Linked DNA regions of Homo sapiens. The protein of the gene in region 3 purifies or fractionates together with the protein of the main gene of each other region. This does not show direct contact. Each region holds a gene or a part of one and is shown on either strand. Other genes may lie near its edges.

Evidence for each region.
Region 1: the proteins of NUDCD2 (region 3) and SSBP1 purify together in Homo sapiens (affinity purification with mass spectrometry, with the first as the bait; one large-scale study listed by BioGRID). This does not show direct contact.
Region 2: the proteins of NUDCD2 (region 3) and CCDC50 purify together in Homo sapiens (affinity purification with mass spectrometry, with the first as the bait; one large-scale study listed by BioGRID). This does not show direct contact.
Region 4: the proteins of NUDCD2 (region 3) and RGS14 purify together in Homo sapiens (affinity purification with mass spectrometry, with the first as the bait; one large-scale study listed by BioGRID). This does not show direct contact.
Region 5: the proteins of NUDCD2 (region 3) and SMC4 purify together in Homo sapiens (affinity purification with mass spectrometry, with the first as the bait; one large-scale study listed by BioGRID). This does not show direct contact.
Region 6: the proteins of NUDCD2 (region 3) and G3BP2 purify together in Homo sapiens (affinity purification with mass spectrometry, with the first as the bait; one large-scale study listed by BioGRID). This does not show direct contact.
Region 7: the proteins of NUDCD2 (region 3) and EIF3E purify together in Homo sapiens (affinity purification with mass spectrometry, with the first as the bait; one large-scale study listed by BioGRID). This does not show direct contact.

The regions. Positions count from the first base shown.
Region 1 is NC_000007.14:141,744,858-141,748,357, forward strand, and holds part of SSBP1 (single-stranded DNA-binding protein, mitochondrial precursor), read left to right. Parts: intron 1-638; coding exon 639-727; coding exon of another isoform or gene 728-804; exon of another isoform or gene 805-2,480; intron 2,481-3,500.
Region 2 is NC_000003.12:191,353,394-191,356,893, forward strand, and holds part of CCDC50 (coiled-coil domain-containing protein 50 long isoform), read left to right. Parts: intron 1-3,500.
Region 3 is NC_000005.10:163,446,026-163,450,102, reverse strand, and holds the end of NUDCD2 (nudC domain-containing protein 2), read left to right. Parts: 3' UTR 1-3,577; downstream 3,578-4,077. UniProt on the Homo sapiens protein: May regulate the LIS1/dynein pathway by stabilizing LIS1 with Hsp90 chaperone.
Region 4 is NC_000005.10:177,364,424-177,367,923, forward strand, and holds part of RGS14 (regulator of G-protein signaling 14), read left to right. Parts: intron 1-1,539; coding exon 1,540-1,561; intron 1,562-1,753; coding exon 1,754-1,932; intron 1,933-2,284; coding exon 2,285-2,377; intron 2,378-2,467; coding exon 2,468-2,611; intron 2,612-2,990; coding exon 2,991-3,134; coding exon of another isoform or gene 3,135-3,290; coding exon 3,291-3,402; intron 3,403-3,500.
Region 5 is NC_000003.12:160,416,650-160,420,149, forward strand, and holds part of SMC4 (structural maintenance of chromosomes protein 4), read left to right. Parts: intron 1-1,073; coding exon 1,074-1,307; intron 1,308-2,708; coding exon 2,709-2,894; intron 2,895-3,500. UniProt on the Homo sapiens protein: Central component of the condensin complex, a complex required for conversion of interphase chromatin into mitotic-like condense chromosomes.
Region 6 is NC_000004.12:75,649,412-75,652,911, reverse strand, and holds part of G3BP2 (ras GTPase-activating protein-binding protein 2), read left to right. Parts: intron 1-3,500.
Region 7 is NC_000008.11:108,238,718-108,242,217, forward strand, and holds part of EIF3E (eukaryotic translation initiation factor 3 subunit E), read right to left. Parts: intron 3,197-3,500; coding exon 3,082-3,196; intron 1,359-3,081; coding exon 1,241-1,358; intron 1-1,240. UniProt on the Homo sapiens protein: Component of the eukaryotic translation initiation factor 3 (eIF-3) complex, which is required for several steps in the initiation of protein synthesis.

The DNA.
Region 1 (3,500 bases), on a different chromosome or scaffold from region 3:
ACTTTTTTGGTGGTGGTAGACTCTCAAAACTGGTACTATTGTCATCTTTCCACTCTTGAAAATCACGATTAGGTTTGTTATCTAGTTTAGCCTCTAGATAGTGTAGAAATAGTCTTAGTAATTACCTCTAAGTGGTATACTAAGCTGATACAGTGTAGAAATAGTCTTAGTAATTAACTCAGGGTAATATTATACTAAACTAACTACAAATCCATATTTTGAATTTTAATCATCTAAGTTTCTAAGGTCATAGAAAATAATTGATAAATAAGTGAAAATCAAGTCTGTTAGGGACTCCAAAATCAAAGGTCAAGGAAAATGATACATTGGAAATTATTCCTAGAGATTTAAATGTTGCCACTAAATTTCCCTTTGAACTGTTTTGTTTTATTTTTTAACTTCCGTAAGAGAAATAGCTGACAGATGAAAACATTGTCTGTTTTACCTAGATGTTACCAAGTCTGTTTGGACACTCTGTTTCAGTACTCCTAATCCTGAACCTTGAGAAGTGGTAGCAAAAATTAGCTTATATATGATTATATATTTCATCCTTGTCATATACTCAGTACCACCCTGACCTGACTCTTATAAAGCATATTAAGATCTCAACTAAAAACTGTACATTTTATTTATATCAGGTCTCGAATTTATTTGGAAGGGAAAATAGACTATGGTGAATACATGGATAAAAATAATGTGAGGCGACAAGCAACAACAATCATAGCTGGTAAGAAGCTTGTGAAAATAGCTGTTTTTTTCTTTTTCTCCTTTTCTTTTTTAAAAGCTTGGCTACACTGTAACTAACTAGGGTTAAGAGTACCAGTACTTATGAGTTAAGGCAACTCACTAGAAGATGTCCATAACTCTTATTTCTCTACTTGCTAAGAGTTTGTACATTTATCCCTTCCTTTAAAAAATTATTTTTATACTTACAGTTTTAGTCACAAGTAACTTTTGAATAAAGCCTAAAACTGAATTATCCATCCCAGTACTTATTGTTGAGAATTACAAAAACTCTGAATGTATTGTCTTTTGGAAGGATCTAGCCCTAACCAGGAAGAAGCGTATGCCAAGATAAGAATTACACTAATGTGAGTGTGCAGATTTATTCGGAACCTCTTTGGTACTTAGTATGTGAAATTTCTATTTGAAATTAAGATTTTTTTAATTTTATTTTTTTTGAGCCAGAATCTCACTCTGTCACCCAGGCTGGAGTGCAATGGCACAATCTCGGCTCATTGCAACCTCTGTCTCCTGGATTCAAGTGATTCTCCTGCCTCAGCCTCCTGAGTAGCTAGGATTATAGGTGCGTGCCACACCACCTGGCTAATTTTTGTAATTTTCGTAGAGGCGGGGTTTCACCATGTTGGTCAGGCTGGTCTTGAACTCCTGACCTCAGGTGATCCATCCACCTCGGCCTCCCAAAGTTGTGAGATTACAGGCATGAGCCACTGTGCCCAGCCAAGAAGTTTTTAATTTTCTCTTTTTTTGTTTTTGTTTTGAGACAGGGTCTCCCTCTGTCAACCAGGCTGGAGTGCAATGGTGTGATCACAGCTTACTGCAGCCTCTACCTCCCCAGGCTCAGGTGATCTTCCCACCTCAGCCTTCTCCCAAGTAGCTGGGACAACAGGTGTACACCATCATGCCTGGCTAATTTGTCAATTTTTTTGTAGAGATGAGGTTTCACCATGTTGCCCAGGCTGGTCTCAAACTGCTGGGCTCAAATGATCCTCCCACCTTAGCCTCCCCAAATACTGGAATTACAGGCATGAGCCATTATGCCCGGCCTAATATTCTCTTTAAACAAAATACAGTACAACATAGAAAAGATGTACACGTAAAGGTTAAAGAAGATTAAGAAGATATCCCTTAGGAAAGAGTTTTTAAACTTTTGAAAATGCTATAAGAATTTTGAAAATAATATACCCCTCTGGATGTCTGCAAGCGACATTAAGAAATTTTTTTCAATACAAAATTGTGTTATTTTTAAATGTATCAATGGAATCTAAATAGCATAGCAATGTGATACCTACTATCCTGTAAAAAAATACCAGTTCAGCATTTGGAAATTTTCCATTATTCTTTTTTCTTTGAACTTGTTTTACTGTTTTTATTTTCCCCTCAGAAGTGTATCTTAATAGTATATGGTATAGTTAAGAACTTTTTATTACCCTGTTTGTAACAAAAATGCATGCATAAAAGAAACTTTAAAATATTTAAAAGAATTCTATGACAAATTCTTCTCAATTGACTTATCATTAAAGTTGTTTTTAGTACCTAATTGATCAAAACAATTTTAATGTATTTAAATTATATTGGAAATATGTCTTTAAATGAGATAGATGGTGCTTTTTTCACTTCTTGAGTAAATTGCTAAAATTAGACATTGTGAATTTTGTGCTTTTGTTTGCTTTTATGGACATAAATACTAAGAAAGCTTTTTAAAATAAATACATGGCAATAAACTAAATTTTACTATATTAATGTTTCTGTGTTTATGAACTTCTGAGATATGCCCAAATTAGATTTTTTTTTTTTTTTTTTTTTTTTGAGACAGCGTCTCACTCTGTTGCCCCGGCTAGAGTACAGTGACACGATCCTGGCTCACTGCAACCTTCGCCTCCCGGGTTCAAGCGATTCTCCTGCCTCAGCCTCCTGAGTAGCTGGGACTACAGGCACGCGCCACCACGCCCAGCTAATTTTTGTATTTGTAGTAGAGATGGGGTTTCACCATATTGGCCAGGCTGGTCTCGAACTCCTGACCTCGTGATCTGCCCACTTCAGCCTCCCAAAGTGCTGGGATTACAGGCGTGAGCCACCGTGCCCGGCTAGATAATATTTTTTAAAAATTGATTTTTGGGCTGGATGCAGTGGCTCACGCCTGTAATCCCAGGCCTTTGGGAGGCTGAGGTGGGTGGATCATTTGAAGTCAAGAGTTCAAGACCAGCCTGGGAACATGGTGAAACCCTGTCTCTACACAAAATGCAAAAAGTAGCCGGGTCTAGTAATGCGTGTCTGTAGTCCCAGCTACTCAGGAGGCTGAGTCATGAGAATTGCTTGAACCCAGGAGGCAGTGTTTGTAGCGAATTGAGATCACACCACTGCACTCCAGCCTGGGCAATAGAGGAAGACTCTCTCAAAAAAAAAAAAAAAAAAAAAATTTTTTTTTTTTTACTATGGAAAATGTCAAACATGTATAAGAGCAGAAAAAATGGTAAAATGAACTCCTACCATTTCGCTTCAGTGTCAGCTGATGGACAGTGTTATATCCATGCCTCCAGCGACTTGACCTACACCTGGATTATTTTGAAACAGATTCTAGACATAAGTTTATTCATAAATTTCCATAGGGATCTCTAAAAGATAAGGTGTCTTTTTGAAAATGTAACTACCGTGCTATTATCACACCTAATATTAATAAATTACTGTTAATTTTTTTACTAAATATCGTAGTGTTCAAATTTCCTTGATAACTTCATAAACATTCATACATTATATTA
Region 2 (3,500 bases), on a different chromosome or scaffold from region 3:
AAAGTTTGAGAAATGGGAGGGTGAAAGGTGGTTCACCTTAAATGTGCCCACAGAGAAAGGTGGGAAGATGAGTGTATGCCGTTTATCCTCAGTAGGCTGTTTATGCTGTTTACATCGAAGGCAGAGGAGGTTAGAAAAGGAGAAAAGTTCTCTTCATGCTCTGAGCGTGGCCTGGCTGTGAAATAGTTTCAGTAATTCTCAATCTGGTTACTGATTTACAAAGTTGACTGAATATGTGATTGTTTTCCAGGTTGTGCTAGAATACTGATGGAGGGAATACAGAGGCAAATCTTGAAAAAAATTAGAGTGGGTTCAGAAGAAATTATATATTGGGCAAGTAATATTTCAGTATAAATGAGATTATATGTTTGGAAACTCCTAGTAACCTCCGAAGGGCAAAGTCAGTGTATTTGACAATACAACTCTCTGTGTGTATGTGTTCATGTACTTCCTCATAATCATTGAAAATCTTCCAGATCCCCTTCTAGCTCAGGCCCTCCTCATATCTTTTGGGTACTAGTTCAGCTTCTGCAGATTCAGGGACAAATTGCAATAATAGAATATACTTCAGTCTTGCTGTTGAGATAGTAAGAAATCATTATGAGGAGTCATCAAGGTAATCAGCAATTCGGAAATTTCTCACACCTGTTATAATGTGTCAAACCATATCTTCATGTTCATGGTTTAGCAATATGTGCTGTTGACAACATGAAATAAGTGAATTTAATTATAGAACTTAAAATGTAATATGTAAGACATTTAAAAAGCACAGGAAATAGAAAAACCCATGAACCTACCACCCACATCAAATGTTAATATTTTGCCTTATTGTGTATCTTTTCTCTTTTTGCTTTTGAAGCAGAATGGCTCATGCAGCTAAGGCACTCATGCCCCTCTTCGTCTCTCTGGAGAGAGAACTACTGTTTGGAGTTAAGTTTGTGTCAGTGCCATATTATTAAAAAAATTTTTTTTAACCATAGGTATATCTATCTACAAACTATATTTTAATGTTTAATGTTCTGCTGACTGAAGTTAAGAAATATTTTTAAAATTATTGTAGTTCTTCACATGATTCTCCACATGGAAAAATGTAATAATTTCATAATTTTTAATTTTAGTTAGCATGGTATTAGAAACATAGAAAACATATTTTTGGCGTAACGTTCTGACCTAATAACATAAATTGAAGTGGCTTTTAAGCTTTTTGTAATCTATAGAATGATGTGTGTTTTACATTTTGACCTAGTACCTATCATCTCTGTATGTATATATTTCTGTGATGTTTATATATAATACGGGAAAAGTTTCCCCAAACTAGTTTCCTGTACTGTGTGTGATTTATACTAGTCCCTTCGTATTTGTGGGGTGGGGTGTAGAGGTGGTTCCAAGACCTCACATGGATACTAAAAATCTATGGATACTTCAGCCCCTAATATAAAATGGGGTAGTATTTGCATATAATTCATACATATTCTACTGTATACTTCACATTGTCTGTAGATTACTTATACTACCTAATACCGTTCATTTAGGAAACAATGATAAGAAAAAATGTCTGTATGTATTCAGTACAGCCACATTTTTTTTTCCTGAATATTTTTTATTTGTGGTTGATTTAATCCATGAATCCAAAACTCAGGGCTATGAGAGCCAACTGTCCTCTGTTATTCTCTAGACTATTGACTTTTAAAATGCCTTTCTCAGGCTTAGTAAATTGATTTTTTGACCTAATAATAGATTGCCACCCATAATTTGAAAATCATTAAGAGTAATCTTAAATTTGATCTAATCATAATTAATCTAAAATTAAGACTGACTTTTAATATATAAGCACAAGCTTTTCCAGTATAATAAAGGTGTTTTAAATGATAGGTCAATACATTAAAATAACATTCTTTACACAAGATTTGATTATATTTATTTTAGCTAATTCATTAATTTTTGTAAATTAAGTCCGTGTATGTCTTACCCATTTAAAAATTAGATATTAATTAATTGAAGTGTTTTAGAGAATATGCGATGGTTAATGTAGAATATTTTCTTTCTGTCTATTCTTACCATGATTTACCTGGAGGGAAGGAGGGCCATCATTGTGTCAGGGAAGGGGAAGGAGCTCTTGAGCTCTTGCTGGCTTAGATGTTGACCCCCAAGCCCTGTCACCAGTGAACTCTGTACAGCCTTAGAAAACCCCTTCTTCCTTCTGGCTTTCAGTTTCCTCACTTATTAAATGAGGGTGTTATCTAGCTCATCTTGAAACTACTTTTATTCTGTGAAACATAAGGTAACTAGGACCTGGGCTTCAAGATATTAGAATCGGTTGAGAATATGAAAAGCTGATGAAAAAGAACAGGGCTTTCTGTTCGAATTACTGGTTTTGCTGTTATGTTTGAGCGAGGATTAAGCAGGTTGTATCCAGTTGAATATAGTTCTTGGGCAAGAATTATTCCTCCATTATAAAACCATTTCAAAATAATCTTGACCTCCCCAAGATCTCCCTCCCTTTTTGTGGCATTATCCCTCAGTCGTGAAGGACACAACTAATGTTGAGTGTATATGTGAACATACATAAGTGCAAAGAACGGCAAAGGAACGTTTTTCATTCTGTTTCAGTTAAGTGTCCTCATAGGCAAATCCAAAGCTTCGGAAAGAAATCTATCACTTTTCCTAAGCCCTGGGGAATGTTTCATGAGTCCTACTCAATTGCAGTAATCTGAGGCTTTGGGGAATTTCCTTTTTTTAACATGAATTACATGCTTGGAATAGAGTGAGAACATATCACCTAAACTACACGTCCTTAAAACAGCACTTTACATGATGAATCCTTCATGTTTTGTCTGTTTGTATGTTTACGAAGCAGGAGTTTAAATTGCAGCTTGGGGTAAACATGGATACCATTGTTTACCCCAAACCATTTCTTCAAGACCATTTCTTCCCATTTTGCTTCTGAGAAGACAGGTCAGGAAATGCCCTTGCCTGGCTCTTCAGGTGGAGGCAGAGTTGGGGCAGATTCCTGGTTTCCTTCAGGGTTCCCATTTTCTTTTGGTTTGTAGATTATTTTGGGGCAGCCCAAGGTTTAGAGGGACCTAGAGACCTAGTTCTAACTCATGTCCCTGGGGATTGACCCACTGAAGAATGTTTAAGAAATTAAGAATTTTTAAAGTAGAGCTCTGCCCCTACCTGAGGGACTAGTGAAAATATATTTTTTCTTGAAAGACGCCAGGGTAGACATAAATTGCTGGGAGAGGATCGTCTGAACCACAGGGAAGCATAGATTAGATTTCTTTTAACACCTCTAATTATGCAGTAACTCAGTTCTCTCTCAGTAGCAATATGCAAAGCATGACTGATACGTCTGTTATTTCAGCAGCACTTAACCCTCCATTTATAGAAGTGGATTGGAATTTCTAGACCTCTGGAATCTGATTCTGTAAATGTTCTCACCTCAGGCCAGGGGCCAAGGCTAACCAGTATTTTGTGACACCCTGTGCTTGGCACTAAGC
Region 3 (4,077 bases):
TATTTTTTATTTTTAGTAGAGTTGGGATTTCACCATATAGGCTAGGCTGGTCTTGAACTGACCTCAACGGATCTGCCCGCCTCAGCCTCTGAAGTGCTGGGATTACAGGCATGAGCCACCGTGCCCGGCCTATGGATTTTTTTCTTCTAAAAATTTTATAAATTTAGTTCTACATTTAGATCCGTGATCCATTTTAGGTTAATTTTTGTATAAGCTGTGAAATTTAGGTAGGTTTATTTTTTTGCATATGGATGTTCAGTTGTTTTAAAATCGTCTGTTGAAAAACTCTCCATTCCCCATTGAGTTGTCTTTTCACCTTTGTCAGAAATCAATTGCTATTTATGTGAGTCTGGTTTTGGACTTTATTCCATCGATCTATGTGTTTATCCTTTCATAAATACCAGATTGCCTTGATTATCACAGCTTTATAGTAAGTCTTAAAACTGGGCAGCATGATTCCTTCAAAATTTTTTTGAAATCTTTTTCAAAATTGTTTTGGCTAATTTAGTTTCTTTGCCTTCCATATGAATTTTAGAATTAGCTACTCTGTATCTACAAAAAATCCTACTGGGGTTTTGAATGCAATTTTGTGTCTTCCAATCCATGAACATGAGGTATCTATTTAGGACCTCTTTCATTTCAGTTATCAGCATTTTATGTCATTTTTCAGCATATATTCCACAGTGTTCATTTTGGAGGAACTATTGTTAAGTTGTATTATTTTTGAAACATGGGTTTCCAATTGCACATCGCTAGTATGTACAAATGTGTTTGATTTTTGTTTGTTGACCTTGTATCCTGTGACCTTGCTAAACTTCATTAGTTTTGGGAGTTATTTTGTTGTTAACTCATTAAGTTTTCTACATAAACTACGAATAGAAACAGTTTTATTTTATTCTTTTTAGTCTATGATTTTTCTTGCCTGATTTTGTTGTTAACTCATTAAGTTTTCTACATAAACTACGAATAGGAACAGTTTTATTTTATTCTTTTTAGTCTATGATTTTTCTTGCCTGATTGCAGTGGCCAGAACAATAACATGGAGAAAGTGGCCATCTCAGTCTTGTTCTGGATCTTAGGATTTTGAAAGCATTGTTTTTGACCATTATGTATGCAAGCTGTAGGCTTTTCTTAAATTCCCTTTGTCATGTTGAGCAAGTTCCCATCTATTAATTTGTTGTTAGCAGAGTTTCATGAGTGGATGCTGAATTTTCTATGCTCTTTCTGTATCAGTTTGGTCATTCTTTTTGTTTAGACTGTTAAAATCATGGATTTTACTGATTCCAGAATTTTGAAACAGCTTATATTTCCTCCCAACCCCAAACTTGGTCATGGTACATTATTCAGCTTATGTATCTAGATTTTTATTTTTTGAGGATTTTTATGTCTGTGTTCATTTTGGATATTGTGCAATTGTTTTTGTTTGTTTTTTCCTTGTGTTATCTTTATCTTGGTATGGTATCATGTTAATTCTGGTCTTGTAAAATGAATTGCAAAGTGATTATTCTTTCTGGAAGAGATTTGTAGAATTTGTTATATCTTTAAATGTTTTATGAATTTGCTAGTAAGGTTTTAAACAATGGTTCAATTTTTAAAAATAGAGAATTTATTGAGGTTTATTTAAGTTTGGGTACTGTATGCCTTTCAAGGAATTGGTTCATCTAATCCTATGTGCATAGAGTTGTTCATGGTATTTTCTTTGTGTCGTTCTAATGAGGATCTATACTGTTATCTTTTCTTTGATTCCTAAGATTGGAATCAAAGATTGGAATTCCTTCTCTTTTTTTGTCAATTTTGCCAGAGGTTTATCAATTTTACTGCTCTTTTCAAAAATTAGTTTTTTGATTGTTTTCTATTAATTTGTTTACAATTGCATTTATTTTCTGCCTCTTTTTTTTTTTTCTTCTTTCTGCTTGCTTTAGGTTTAGTTTGGGCTTCTTTTTTTTGTAGACAGGTCTCACTTCATCACCCAGACTGGAGTAGTGTTATGATCATAGCTCACTGCAGCCTCAAACTCGTGGGGTCATGATCCTCCTACCTCAGCCTTCTGAGTGGCTGGGACTATAGTGGTGTGCCACCACACCCAGTTAGATTTTCCTACTTTCTTAAAGTGGGAGCTTAGAGTGTTAATTTGAGAACTTTTTCTTGTTTAGTAAAAAGCAGTCGATTGTTATAAATTGCAGCACCAGCATGGCTGCATTCCAAGCACGGTGATATTTTCATTTATTTTAAAATATTTTTTAAGACTTCCCTGTAGTATCATGAGTTATTTAGAAATGTGTTGTTTAATTTCCAAGTGTTTGGAGATTTTCTTGCTGTTACTGATTTCTAGATTATGGTCAAAAAACATATTTTATATGATTTCATCTCTTTTAAATTTGTTAAGGTTTAAGACCCATGATGTGGTTTATCTTGGTGAGTGTTCCATGTGTACTTGAAAAGAATGCTTATTCTGCTGTTTTAGGTAGAAGGGTTTTATGTCAATTAAATCTAGCTGGTTATTAGTATTATTCCATTTTCCTACATCTTTGCTAATTTTCTATTAATTCTATGGACTACTGAGAGAGGAATGTTTAAGTTTCCAACTGTAAATGAAGATTTGTCCAGTCCTCCTTTTAATGCTACCACTTTTTGCTTCATGTTTTTTTTTTTTTTTTTGAGTCTTACCCTGTCACTCAGGCTGGAGCATAGCAACTCTGTCATGCTTCACTGCAGCCTCAAACTCCTGGGCTCAGACAGTCTTCCCACCTCAGGCTCCTCAGTACCTAGGACTACAGATGTATATCACTATGCCTAGCTAATTTTTGATTTTTTGTAGAGATAGGGTCTCCCTATGTTGAGTAGGCTGGTCTTGAACTCTTGGCCTCAAGCAATCCTCCCACCTTGGCTTCCCAAAGCATTGGAATTACAGGAATGAATGAGTCTCTGTACCTGGTCTCTTCATGTATTTTTAAGATCTGATAATAAGTGCTTACACTTTTAGCACTGTCTTGGTGAATTTTATCATTATATAATGTCCCTAATTATCCTTGGCAATTTTGGTTGTTCCTAACTCTACTTTGATGAATATAAAAATGGCTTTTTAATTTATTTTTTGAGACAAGAGCCTCACTCTGTTGCCCAGGTTGGAGAGCAGTGGTGTGATCTTGTCTCACTGCCTCACAGGTTCAAGCAATTCTCCTGCCTCAGTCTCTGGAGTAACTGGTACTACAGGCATGCGCCACCACACCCAGCTGATTTTTGTATTTTTAGTAGAGATGGGGTTTCACCATGTTGGCCATGCTGGTCTCGAACTCCTGGCCTCAAGTGATCCGTCCACCTTGGCCTCCCAAAGTGCTGGGATTACAGGTGTGAGCCACTGCGCTCGGCCTTAAAAATTGGCTTATCTTTTAATTCATCTTGACTCATGTTTACTGTTTTTTGGTTTCTGAAAAATAGATTTAATAAATAATAACATTTTATCAAAGTTATTAGTATAGAGAAATAAATTGAGTGTTGTTATTATTCTATGATCATGATGACAGCACAGAAGTTAATGTGGCCAGCATATAGTTTTGATTAAAAATTATACAAGCAATTTCACTTGAGTCCAATTAATCTTTTATTTTGAGAGGTAATGTATAGAGTGGTTAAGAGCACAGCCTCTGGAGTCAGAACTGCCTGGCTTTGAATCCTACCTCCAAGTACCAGGTATAGACCAGGGGCAAATCATTAGGTTCTCTGTCTCTCTTTCATTTGCAAATTGGGATAATGTCATTCAGTTGAGAGGATTTTAATGAGATGATTCATAGTACCAGAGAGTAAAAATTATCACTGCCAGCCACAAATGTTAAATCGAAAATATAAATTTTTAGATAGGATGTCTCATAATTGTAAATATGTACAAGGTTCAGATACTTTTTAAAAAATACTATGAAACATTATTAAATAAGTCTAAGGCAAGTCAATTATAAAAGGAGGCTTCTTTTATGAACAACTTTTCTTTCATCAGTAACTCCTTGCAGTGTCTACTTTACAGGATGTTAGTTTGAACATGAACTGTTCAAAATCATATTAATTAATTCAATTCCAGTAATA
Region 4 (3,500 bases), about 14 Mb from region 3:
GGACTTCCATTTGGGAGCTTGAGGGCTTGTGGGACATTTGAGGGGGGACTCGCCCCCCTCCGCTGGGCTGCCTGGCCCTGCCCTCCTCGCGCACACCCTGAGCCTCTGTCCTGCCCTCTAACCCCAAGTCAGGGGTGATAGGCGCTGGAGCCGTTACCAGGAAGTTGGTTATGTGTGTCTGGAGCTGTGGATCTGTGGATGGGACAAAGTGCCCAGGACAGAGCCAGAGAGGGGTTGAGGCCACATTGCATGAGTGGGAGATAGTGGGGAAGCTGGAGGAGCTGCTAGGAAGGTAAAAAGAGAAACAAGAGAAACCACCGCAAGAGTCATTTTGAGAGGAGAGTTTTTCTGTTTCACTAATGATTGGGATTCCCAGAGAAACCAGAGTTGTGCACTGGGGGCAAGGATGGAGTTAGTTACTGCAGCAGTACTACTCACAGAGTAGTCCCTGAACCAGCAGCATCAGCATCGCCTGGGAGCTTGGTAGAAATGGACAGCCTCAGGCCCCATCTTGGACCTACTGAACCTGAATCTCCAGAGGTGGGGTCCTCCCACTCTGCACTGAAGTTTGAGAACCACTGCTCTGTACTATAGACCAGCATCTTGTGCCCTCCCACGGTGGTAATGGGACCCTGGGCCCAATAGGCAACACGTGCGATAGTAAGATCACTGGCTGCAGAGACACCTCTCCTTCCTCAAAGACAGCACATGTTTATACAGCCCATATCACATGCTGGCCCATGTTCTAGATGCTGTGGATATATTTTTATTTGATTTTCTTTTATTGAGACGGAGCTTTGCTCTTGTCACCCGGGCTGGAGGGCAATGCCACAATCTCAGCTCACTGCAACCTCTGCCTCCTGGGTTCAAGCGATTCTCCTGCCTCAGCCTCCCGAGTAGCTGGGATTACAGGCATCCACAACCACATCCAGCTAATTTTTTTTTTTTTTTGTATTTTTAGTAGAGACTGGGTTTCACCATGTTGGCCAGGCTGGTCTCGAACTCCTGACCTCAGGTGATCCACCCATCTCGGCCTCCCAAAGTGCTGGGATTACAGGCGTGAGCCACCGTGTCCAGCCAATGCTGTGAATATATTAAACTGACTTGATCTTTACATCAAGATGGAAGCAAATGGTTTGCCTCCATTTGTAAATAGGCATTATCTCCTATTTACAGATTACAGATGGAGGCAAACAAGTTAACTAACTTGCCCAAAGTTACACAGCTAGTAAGTGGCAGAGACTAAAGTCTGTTCCTACCCACCATGCTATGCACACCTGGCTCACCCAGCAGGGGCTGGGGGAGGAGGGAACCAGGGGCTGCTGGAAGGTACCTGCCATAAGTCCCAGTACTTAGTGGTTGGCACAGGATGGAAGGGGAGCCAGGGGCAGACTGAGGAAAACCCTGACCAAGTAGAACCTGGCCGGGGATGCCCAGGTGGAGGAGAACGCAGTTCCAGCTCCTGGGAGTCGGGCCCAGAACTGTCCCCTGGGAATCCTCACTGGGCTCTTCTGACTTTCTCTGTTGGGTCTCTTATAGGTTCTGGCTGTGTCAGATGGAGGTAAGTGACAGAATGTGTGGAGAACTGGCTGAGTGGGAGGGAGGAGGGAGGTGGAGATGGGTGGGGACACCCCTGCCACCTGCTATCTTTCCAGGGAACATGGCTGCAGAGTGGATGCATGGGGGAGGGTGGGTTGTGCCAGGGGCTGGGGAAGGCAGCAAGGCTCACCCCAACTTGTCCATCCCCCTGCAGAGCTGAGCAGCACGACGGGGCCCCAGGGCCAGGGCGAGGGCCGCGGCAGCTCTCTCAGCATCCACAGCCTCCCCAGTGGTCCCAGCAGCCCCTTCCCAACCGAGGAGCAGCCTGTGGCCAGCTGGGCCCTGTCCTTCGAGCGGCTGTTGCAGGACCCGCTGGGCCTGGCTTACTTCACTGTAAGCCTGGGGTAGGGAAAGGGAAGGGGGGACACGGGAGAGGGCAGGGCGTGGATGGAGCTTCAGGCTGGCCAGAGTGGGGTCCTCTGTCAGCTTCCTCATCTAGCCTTCCTGCAGCACCCTCTTCCTCTTCTCCCAGCTGGGAACTTTTCTTCCTTCTCCCTGTCCTTGTCTCTGCCTCTCATTTTCTCTCCCTGTCTTCAGATCGGTCTGGCTCCGTCTGTCTGTCTGGCCCTGTCTGTCTGGCTTGGTCTCTTGGCCCTGTCTCTGTCCCAATCTTTTTGATCACATCCCCCAGTTTGGTCTCTGTGTCTCTGAGTCTCTGCCTGCCTCCCCCTCCTTCCCCTCCCAGGAGTTCCTGAAGAAGGAGTTCAGCGCGGAAAACGTGACTTTCTGGAAGGCCTGCGAGCGCTTCCAGCAGATCCCGGCCAGCGATACCCAGCAGGTGGGGGAAGGGGGAGCTGGGGCCGAGGGCTGGGGAGAGGGGAACTGGGCCACGCTCCCTGACCAACTCCTCCTGTCCCTCCTCCTTCAGCTAGCTCAGGAGGCCCGCAACATCTACCAGGAGTTCCTGTCCAGCCAGGCGCTGAGCCCAGTGAACATCGACCGTCAGGCCTGGCTTGGCGAGGAGGTGCTGGCCGAGCCCCGGCCGGACATGTTTCGGGCACAGCAGCTTCAGGTGGGCGATCCTGGGGGGATTGGCCTTGAAAGGGAGACAAAAGGAGCAGGGGCGGGGTCGGACCCTGGCGGGGAGTCTGAACTACAAAGCGGAGGGGGCAAATTTGGAGGCGGAGACAGAGCCAAATGCCGGGGCAGGCAGGGCGGAGCTCAGAGGGCGGTATCAGAGGCACGGGGAAGGACAGTTAGAGGCGGAGCCTAGCTGAGCTCGGGGCGGGCTTGGACCCCGGGGGTGGGTATAGGAACTGAGGTCGGGGCGGGGCTTGGGAAATCCAGCCCTAGGTTTGGGGCGGGGCCAGCCCCAAGGACCCGGCCTGGGTGCAGGCAGCCCAGCGCCCCCACCCCAGCCCCGGCTCACCTGTTCCGGGGTCGCCCCGCAGATCTTCAACTTGATGAAGTTCGACAGCTATGCGCGCTTCGTCAAGTCCCCGCTGTACCGCGAGTGCCTGCTAGCCGAAGCCGAGGGACGCCCTCTGCGGGAACCTGGCTCCTCGCGCCTCGGCAGCCCTGACGCCACGAGGAAGGTGCGTGGGACTGGGCGAGGGACTGGGCGAGGCAGGGGGTCCTGCGGACCGCGTGCAAGAGGGGACGCCTCCGGGTGCAGATCTGCGAGTCTGTGCCCACGGTCTGCATGCGGGCTGGGGCCCAGCCCGGTGCCAGCGCCTCCCCTGTACCCACAGAAGCCGAAGCTGAAGCCCGGGAAGTCGCTGCCGCTGGGTGTGGAGGAGTTGGGGCAGCTGCCACCCGTTGAGGGTCCTGGGGGCCGCCCTCTCCGCAAGTCCTTCCGCCGGGGTGAGGGCAGGAGCGAGCAACAGAGATGTGGGGAAGGCGGGAGTTTGGTTAAATTTGGGGAGTGCCCCCTTCCTCCTACGTGGCCCACAGTCTGTAAG
Region 5 (3,500 bases), on a different chromosome or scaffold from region 3:
AATACAGTACCTTGATTATTATATATGCCACTCCTAAGCGTGTTGAATCATCATATTTTGTTGCCACCTGTAAAACCTGGAGCCACACTAAGCGCAGGTTAATGTCTCTTTTGTTTTTGCTTCTATAGCTCTTGTGTAATAGTTAAAAGCTGTGGCTCTTGTTTCAGTTCTTGGTTCAAATCCTAGGTCAATCACTTACTGTCTCTGTTCTTGTGCCGGTTGTCATATCTCCAAGTCATCTTCCTTAAAATGAGAAAGAATATATCTACTTTGTGAAAATAAAGAATAAATATATCTATATAACGTACTGAGAAAGAAAATAAATGTTAGCTATAATTTTAGCATTATATTAATAAAACGAGAGCATGAAGTTGTCACATTGATATGTATTATCTACCCCAACAAGAGTAAGCATAAAATTATCTTTGTTTGTATGTACCACAGCATTTTTGACAGTGCTAAGCATGTTAAATACCTATGTTAATGGATAATGGTAATTGACTGCATTAAAAAGTCATGGTAGAGTCTGCTTTGGCATATCAACATGTTCTAATGTCAAACTATAAAACTTAACAGGTTAGAATACCTGTGTGATGAAGTGTCACTTAATAGAGTCTGCTTTGGAATATGGACATGTTCTAATGTCAGATTATAAAACTTTACAGGTTAGAATACCTGTGTGATAAAGTGTCAATGGATAATGCAGTAGCTTTCATGATGGGATACTTCATAGTTAGTGGATTTTCACTGTTTGCTTATTTAATATATATTGAGTACTCATGTGCCCTGCACCCCATGTTAATGACAAAGCTAGGCCTCAAATGTCTTTATTCCTCAGCGTAATGATCGATCTCACAAAGCTCTTGTGAAATCAGTTGGGAAAAGACTATGTACAGTGAATATTGACAACTAGGCAAAAACTGAATCTAGTCCACTTGTGAGAATTTCTTATTTCTATATACTGTGCTTATAGAATCTCCTTTCTTAAATCGAATATAAAATGTATGGTTTCATTTCAGTGTAGGTTTGAAAGTAAATATCTGTCCAGATTTAATGAACTCATATTTTAACAGAGTCGAGAGAAAGAACTTATGGGTTTCAGCAAATCGGTAAATGAAGCACGTTCAAAGATGGATGTAGCCCAGTCAGAACTTGATATCTATCTCAGTCGTCATAATACTGCAGTGTCTCAATTAACTAAGGCTAAGGAAGCTCTAATTGCAGCTTCTGAGACTCTCAAAGAAAGGAAAGCTGCAATCAGAGATATAGAAGGAAAACTCCCTCAAACTGAACAAGAATTAAAGGAGGTAAATCTTTGCTTCTCTGTTGCATCAGAACATCATTCGTCCACTTCAGCTTTATACATTTTTGTTTTTAATCTCCGCGTCAGAGGTGACTAGTGATAAATTTTCTTCATTTTGTATAATCTCAAAAGAATGAGGTCAGCATTTCAGTATTCCATATGTGAACTGAGACTATCAAGAAACTATATTATCCCCAGAAGCACCATATAGTAAGTAAATCACCACCACCACCCCACTGTAGAAATAATTTAAACAAAAGAAAGTTTGTGTTTCTTTAAATCTTAAGTATAGACAATTTAAAGATAAATAAAAAACAAGTGTATATGTATTTATATAATGAATATACAAACAACTATCTTAATGTGTTTTGGGTTTTGAATTTATGGATGTAGTTTCTTTGCTTGCATTCCAAAATGTTATAAACTAACTAAGATGTATAGCTTATCGGTGCCTGTCCCCCATCCTTGAGTGAATTAGATGTCTAAGGAATTTCGTAAACTTTAATCTCCAAAGATCTCCAAAACCTCAGTAGGCAAGGTGGCAATAAAAAAAAAATCTGTTTGAAGTGTAATTATACTGAAAATAAATATGAGTCTTTTTCATTTTAGTTAATGCATGCTATTTGGTCATCAGGGAATTTCATGACCAGGTAGAATTTAAATGTAAATTAAGTTAGATCCAGTGACTGCTTCTGTCTTCCTGGGATTCGGTTTCTTTTGGGATGAATTATGTCAGTAACTTGGTTTAAACTTTATGCCAGTACAGTAAGTAATAGACATAATTTAAATCTAGTGGATGGAGGAATATACCAGTTAGAAAAGATGGCTGCTGAGAAGTTGGAGATTGAGAAACAGAGGTTGTGTTTATGTGTGCATGTTTGTGGTTCCTTTCTTGTTGGGAGCCTGGCATTTTTGTATAGCAATAGGACTATCCAGTCATCTTTCGTTTCAGAGGTGTGCTTTTTCTCCAGTACCCCCCAGCCCCGTTCAGCTAAAATAAAGCACAGCATAACCGTAGTCCTGCCCAGTCATTTTCTGGGTCAGCTTTTCATTAGGGCAGAGCTGAAGAATTAGGGCACACTTATGTATAACTATGTAGTATCAAACTGGGATTTCCACAGCCCCAGCTATACTTCTCTATCAGGATGAACTGTTTGCTCCTGAAAAAAATATTACACCTAATGTTTTCTTTTATTGACCCAAGTAATTTATGCCCCTTTTAAACCCATCCATATTTTCCACAACCAAACCAGCAATTGCCATACAGGTGCTCAGTTTTGGTTCAAATTTTTATTGTTGGTCTTTCTTTCTTTATTGTTATTAAAGCATTACAACTAATTCAGTGCTATGACTGGTCATATTTAGAAGTTAATGCTTCTGGATTTCATTTTATTTTCACTTTTAGAAAGAAAAAGAACTTCAAAAACTTACACAAGAAGAAACAAACTTTAAAAGTTTGGTTCATGATCTCTTTCAAAAAGTTGAAGAAGCAAAGAGCTCATTAGCAATGAATCGAAGTAGGGGGAAAGTCCTTGATGCAATAATTCAAGAAAAAAAATCTGGCAGGATTCCAGGAATATATGGAAGATTGGTAAAGTAGATTTTTGGGGGGCATGGCTTTACTTTTTTTTTTTAAGAAAGTGTAACTTATTTTTTTGCCTTGACAACCATATTTCAAGTGTCACTGTATATAAAATAAGATTCATTTTGTTTGTTTTAAGGCACATTTATTTTTAAACATTTTGCCCTTACAGTTTCTTGTTTACTTAGCTTTAGATAAATACAATTATTTCATACATATCAAGAAAAATACTAGTAATGTCACACAAACTTAAAACCATTTTATCCTTTTTTTTAAAAGAGAGACTTTAGCCAGGCACAATGGTGTGTGCCTGTAGTCCCAGCTGTTGGAGAGGCAGAGGCAGAAGGATCACTTGAGCCTAGGAGTTCAAGTCCATCCTGGGCAATATAGCAAGACTGTTTTTTAAAAAATGAAAATTAAAAAAAATTTTTTTATATATTTGGGGTTTCACACCATTTTACTTAGGTTTGGGCTAGCATTTAAGGATATAACAAGGGATAATCTAAAAATCCAAGGCTAGCAATAGTGAGGACCATTACTGCTTCTTAGCTTCGAGGGAAGGGAGTTGTGGTCCAGAGGAGATGGGGAAAATGGATACCTTAACCCCACCTATTT
Region 6 (3,500 bases), on a different chromosome or scaffold from region 3:
ATTATTTCATTTCAGAGAGTTTAAACAGTTAAAAGTTAAAATAGCTAGTGCTTATGCCTTTGATATGCGCCAAGCATTGTGTGAAGCACTTTTTGTTCATTTTCAGTGAATCCTCACAACCACCCTGTCAGGGTGGGTACTATTGTTTCTGTTTTAGAGATCAAAAAATTGAGGTCTAGAGTAACTCACAGACATTTATGTACATAGTAGGGTTGGGCTTTGAAGTCATGCAGTGGGACATGAGTCCATATGTGGCTCATGTAAACGTTTATTTTTTTGAGACAGAGTCTCGCTCTGTCGCCCAGGCTGGAGTGCAGTGGTAGTGGCAGTGGCGTTATCTTAGCTCACTGCAACCTCCACCTCCCCAGCTCAAGTGATTCTCCTGCCTCAGCCTCCCGAATAGCTGGGATTGTAGGTGCCCGCCACCACGCCTGGCTAATTTTTGTATATTTAGTAGAGACGGGGTTTCACCATGTAGACCAGGCTGGTCTCAAACTCCTGACCCAAGTGATCCACCCGCATTGGCCTCCCAAACGGTGGGGATTACAGGCATGAGCCACTGCGCCCAGCCTCATGTAAACCTTATGCAATTCTCCAGCACCTTGCTGCAGAGTCATGTATCTTATCTGTATTTGCATCAAAGAGGACTCTTAAGACATGCCTGATTAAATCCTAGTCTCTTGCCCAGAAAAATACCTTCATATTTATCTCAAGTAGTTTGCCTTAAATATATTTTCAAAGTTAGTTGTAGGAAATGAAGTTGTATTTCCTATGCCACCCCTTTAATAAAACAAAAATTTTAAATGTTTAGAATTTAAACTTTAAAAGAACGTTCTAATGTCTTTAGGCTATACTTAAAATGGATTCATGATATTTCTACTTGATTTAATAATCCTTCAATTTTAGTTTGTTACTTTTGTGTAGTATTCATTTCCTTGTACTTTGAACATAGATTATTGATAAAAGGAAGTTAATTCCAGGGTATTGGTAGGCATTAACTTAGAAGTAGGTAAGTTAATTTCTTGAATAAAATATTTTGTCTGGAAATTGACTAGTTCACCTACAAAGCTTATGTTTAATTGAAGGGCTTATTATTTGTGGTTATACCTGCTTTTATTGACTTGATTTGATGGTTCTGTACTTACTTCATATTCTGTTTGACCTTCATTTGTGGGTTTGTCATTTGATCATACTTTCTGGTTGCATGGAATTAATTTTAAGGCCCTCTACTGTGTGGCATATTGGCCATGTTATCTGTTCAGAAAAACTAGTTTTAATCATGAAACTGGAGACCTGAAGAATTATAAGTATGCAGCTGACTTAGTTAACATATGTCAATCAGTTACTGAAAGGGACAGTGTTAGCTTTTTGTTCTTGTATTTTTCTTAAACTGGCATCATCAGATATCTACTTAAAGTCAGATTCCTAAATCAATGGCATGAATTATTTGTAAGATGTTGGAAATTATTAATATTTAACTTTATCTGTTTTTAATTTTCATCCTTAAAGAATAAGGAAGAACTTTATTTTGCTACTTGTAGTTACTCGTGTTTTGATAATCTGTTTTGAAAAGAATTTAAATCAGTCAAGACCAGGGCCTCAAGTTCTTTGATAACATTTGGATTGAATGAGTCTAAGGTTTTTCTTAAATTTTGTAATAAAGGTGCATTTAGTGTTTTTATTAATTGCCAGTAATACACTCACTTTATTAAACTTTGACAGAGTACGTTTATTCTCTAATTCTGTTTATATTCATACTGAAGTATGCCTTTAGACCCCCTTAGTTGAAGTTTCTAAATAACTGCCTTTTTCAGCATCACATTTTGCATCAAATTATTATATAGAATTAAACCCCAAATACAGATAGCGGTGGTCTCAGGGCTGTCACTTACGTATCTTTGTCAGACATAGAACATTATCCTGCATGTTTTGGGTCAGAGAACTAAAAATGTAATTTAATTTAAATGAACAAATAGTTACTGAACATCTGTGTCTAATAGCACTGTGCTTGGTTCTTTGGGTGATGTAAAAGTAAGTTAAGATATGGGCCTTGGGCACTGGCGTGCCTGTAGTCTCAGCTGCTTGGGAGGCTGAGGCAGGAGGATCACTTGAGCCTAGGAATTTGAGGTTACAGTGAGCTATGATTGTGCCACTGCACTCCAGCCTGGGCAATAGAGTAAGACTGTGTCTCTCTAAAAAAATAAAAGATACAGACTTTATAGGAGTAAATACATATAAATAACAACAAAACCTGGAGAGAGTTAAAAATATTCATTTTATAACTAGTAGAATTCTAGAATATGGTAAGCAACTTCATCTTGAGGGAAATAGGACATTGACATAGAGGAAAACAGAATTTAGGAAGAGGCAGGCAAACTTGGTTAAACTGTTAGCATAGGAGTTAATATTCCTTTTGGTTACAGTGGCTGAAATCATTTACATTAAATTGTCATTTTTGAAAGAAGCTTTTTTTTTTTTTTTTTTTGAGATGGAGTTTCTCTCTTGTTGCCCAGGCTGGAGTACAATGATCTGCTCACGCAACCTCCGCCTCCCAGGTTCAAGTGATTCTCCTGCCTCAGCCTCCCTAGTAGCTGGGATTACAGGCATGTGCCACCACACCCGGCTGATTTTGTATTTTTAGTAGAGACAGGGTTTCTCCATGTTAGTCAGGCTGGTCTCGAACTCCCGACCTCAGGTGATCTGCCCGCCTCGGCCTCCCAAAGTGCTGGGGTGATAGGCATGAGCTACTGTGCCTGGCTGAAGGAAGCATTTTTGTGTCAGAATTTGTCCTTGTAAATTACAATATCTGTTATATAAATGATTAAAGAGTTTGAGCCGCTGCATGGACTGAGGTCCTCAGAGATGACCACTTTTTTATTTATTTACTTATTTATTTCTGTGAGAAGGAGTTTCACTCTTGTTGCCCAGGCTGGAGTGCAGTGGCGTGATCTTGGCTCACTGCAACCTCCGTCTTCCGGGTTCAAGCGATTCTCCTGCCTCAGCCTCCCAAGTAGCTGGGGTTACAGGTGCCTGCCACCACACCCAGCTAATTTTTTGTATTTTTAGTAGAGACTGGGTTTCGCCATATTGGGCAGGCTGGTCTCAAACTCCTGACCTCAGGTGATCCGCGCAGCTTGGCCTCCCAAAGTGCTGGGATTACATGGAGATGACCATCTTTAAAGATGGGACTGAAATTACTAGCTTTCTGAGTTGAGGACATGTTCTCCATATCCTGTTGGGTGTTTTCAGCATCCTTTGTAGGCTCATATATTTGTCTCTCCTTGGACCATAAATATTTGGGTAGTAGAAGGTCTGAAGAGGTTGGGAATACTGAAAATGCTGTTGTCTTGAGGAAAAGGTAATAGCAGACGCCGATGTAATTTTGTTTTAAAAATAATTATATGTTTAATTCAGCAGTTGGCAGAAACTTTTGGGAGGCATCTTAAACTGTCCTATTACTCCCAGACCCCTAGTTAAGGAAAATCGTTGGGACCAATACT
Region 7 (3,500 bases), on a different chromosome or scaffold from region 3:
TATCTGGTAACACCTTCACAAATCACAAAGGAAAACTTAAGAGCCAATCTCTAAAAATTTGGTTTAAATACATAGAAATCAAAGGTATAGCACGGCAAAATATCCAGCAATTCCTCAAGTGAATTTACTGGTAGCTAGGATTTATCTCAAATGACAATATTCAATTTTAGTAAGAGATTTTATTTTTAAATGTTTCTAGTAACCCAAAAGACTTCCACCCGTGACATGTACTACGTCAGACTAAGGCAATATGTTTTCTTTGGAAACGAAACAGTAACGTCTATTTGTAGGTAAAGGGAAGTTAGGAATAAAATAATCTTATCAGCTCAAAACTACCCTCCTTGGGCATGGAGCTTGGAAGGGTATGAAAGAATGTAGCCAGGGATAAAGTGAGCTCAGGTTTCTCTTATAACGAGATACCCATGTGTTCTAAGGTTCTAGGTATTGCCCAAGCACAGGGTTTCTTTTTTATTTTTTCCTGAGATGGTGTCTCATTATGTCACCTACTTTGGAATGCAGTGGTATTATGACACTGACTCATTGCAACCTCCGCCTCCCGGGCTCAAGCCATCCTCTGACCTCAGCCTCCCAAGTAGCAAGTAAGCTGAGACTACAAGCGCACACCACCACACCTGGCTAACTTTTTATTGGTTTTAATTTTTTGGTAAGATAGAGGGTTTCGCCATGTTGCCCAGGCTGGTCTCAAACTCCTAGGCTCAACGGATTCACTTGCCTCCACCTCCCCAAGTGCTGAGATTACAGGTGTGAGCCACCACACAGTGGAACAGGGTTTCTTAATGGACATTTTCAGTCGGATAATTCTTTGTTGGGGAGTAGCGGCAGCAGTGCTTGTCCTATGCACTGTAGGATGTTTAACAGCATAACTGGCCTCTACTCACTAGGTCCCTATAGCACCCCTCCAGTTATGACAACCAAAAAGTATTTCCAGACATTGCCAAATGTCCCCAGGAAGGGGGAAACAGGAGATGGAATTTCTGTAGTATAATCAGTATAGATAAGTACTAAAGAAGTTTTTTTTAGGAAAAAAACTTAGTGTTAATATTAACATTTATTAATTATACTGGCCCCTACAAAATAAGGATAAACAAAAATTAAAAATGAATAAAGCACTCATTTAAACCATGAACTTTTACTATGGGATACTGGATAAAGTTTGAATTAACATTTGTATTAATCCAGAAAGGAGAATTTTTAGAATTCAAAATTAAGACGAGTTTACCTGGTTGACTGCATTTGCCTTGTAGTTTCTGGATCTTCAAACATCTTCACAATTGGTTCTGTTTCTGCCTGAAGCTGTTTCAGTTGTGCAACCACTGTGGTTCTTTTCTCTCTCAAAGCTAATTAAAAATGCAGAAGAGCACTACAATGTTAAGGAATGTTAAATTGTGCTACTCATCATGAGAATGTCTGGAAATTTTTCAGTGTATTTAAACTATACATATATTTATTTACCCCCAATATATTCATATGCCATGGGCTACTCAGTCAGAAATGTCCCCGATCCCTAATTTCTTTTTTCTACTAATACAAAGGCACAAAAAGGAAAAGGGAATCCTCTTCCTACTCTTGAGGGAAACTAGAGAATATACAGCCTTGGGGTGACAGAGGGATGTGAAAGAAAAAAAGGGTAGGACCCAATTATCTATCATTTAATTCTCCATTGCAGAAACTTCTTTCCAAGTGTTTTTATATTTGTTCTCATTTAATTTTCTTAGGTGAATATTATCCCAGAGTTTTTGAAGAAAAACTCAGAGGGATTTACATATTACTATTACAGGTTATCAACTAGGTTGAATGGAATTTAAATCCATTAAATAATCTCTTTTAACCACAAATCCAGCTCTATAATCTCTCAAACCAAATTCTATCGTTCCTTTTACTATACTATGAAAAGGTGGAGAAAACTTGCACATAACCAACTCTGGTAACACCTTAATGTTTCATTAAGAAACTAAGAAATAGGCCAGGGGCAAGGGCGCACGCCTGTAACCCCAGCAACTTGGGAGGCCAAGGCGGGCTGATCACGAGGTCAGGAGTTCAAGACCAGCCTGGCCAATATGGTGAAACCCCGTCTCTACTAAAAATACAAAAATTAGCTGGGCATGGTGGTGGGCACCTGTAGTCCCAGCTACTCGGGAGGCTGAGGCAGGAGAATGGCGTGAACCCGGGAGGCGGAGCTTACAGTGAGCCGAGATCGCACCACTGCACTCCAGCCCGGGCAACACAGCGAGACTCCATCTCAAAAAAAAAAAGAAAGAAACTAAGAAATAGTTTCCTTTTTGTTTATCCATGACAAACTAAAAAAGAGATACTGTTATTGCAGGGAACTACAAGTCAAACATGTGGATTATGTTTAATGTAATAATGTCTGTATTATATATTAGAAAGTATATTCTAGAGCAGTCTTTCTGAAACACAGAAGATCTATGATCAAATTTTGAGAAATGCCAATTTAATCACAGTATACTGTATTTCTCTACTGCCAAAATTCTTGGAACCTTTAAAAATGTAATGTGCATTGAAGAAATGACACAGAATTATTTCCCAAACTTAAGAGGACCACTTAACAGTTTTGATTAAGTAGGTCTGGTGTGTGGCCAAAAACCTGCATTTCTAACAAGCTCTCCCAGGTGAACTGATGATGCTGGTCCTGGGGACCATATTTGGAGAACAATGTCTACACTAGATGCCTCAAAATTAAAAAAAAAAACACAAAACTCTAAGGCACACAATGCACTAACTGAAAAAGTTAGCAACCCAAGAACTGCAACATTCTCAGATAATTCTAAGGAATGTGAATCATAAGCACAACTTTGATGATACATACTATGAAATGAAGGCATCTGATGACCATATTTTAAAGTAGTTCCACATCTTTCACAGGGAGAAAACAATATATTTCGGAAGATATGAAACCTTTATATAACCTCTCACCCAAAGAACATTAACATTCAAATCATATTTAAGCCTTTTGGCTAAAGCTGTCTTATAAATCATAAAACTTTAATACACACATCCTCAAGTCACAAGACAAGTTTCAGTTCTAATGACAAAACTTACCATGAGGAATATCATCAGAATAAAGGTTTTTGTATACATCCATAGCAAAGTCTACCATGTTGGTATCACTAAGAAGGTCCAATTTACCTTGTAATAATTCCTTTTCATTATATATCTGCAAAAGAAGATAACTTTCTAATGAATATATTTAAGTTCCCCAAATAAACTGATTAATACTAAAACTAATTTACCTGGAAATATATTTCAAGAAATACTTTATAAAATACGATAAACCATTAACATTCCCCTCTTGTAATAATGGCAAGCAATATGGCAAGCAACCAACCTATAGACGTAAAAGTATTTTACTTACCTAAAAATTTTAAAATGAAGAGAATTACTGTAGACATTCCCACCTACTTCTGATTTACATGACCTTATTTTTTATGTGTCCCTACAAACCATCTCTTACCCTTTCT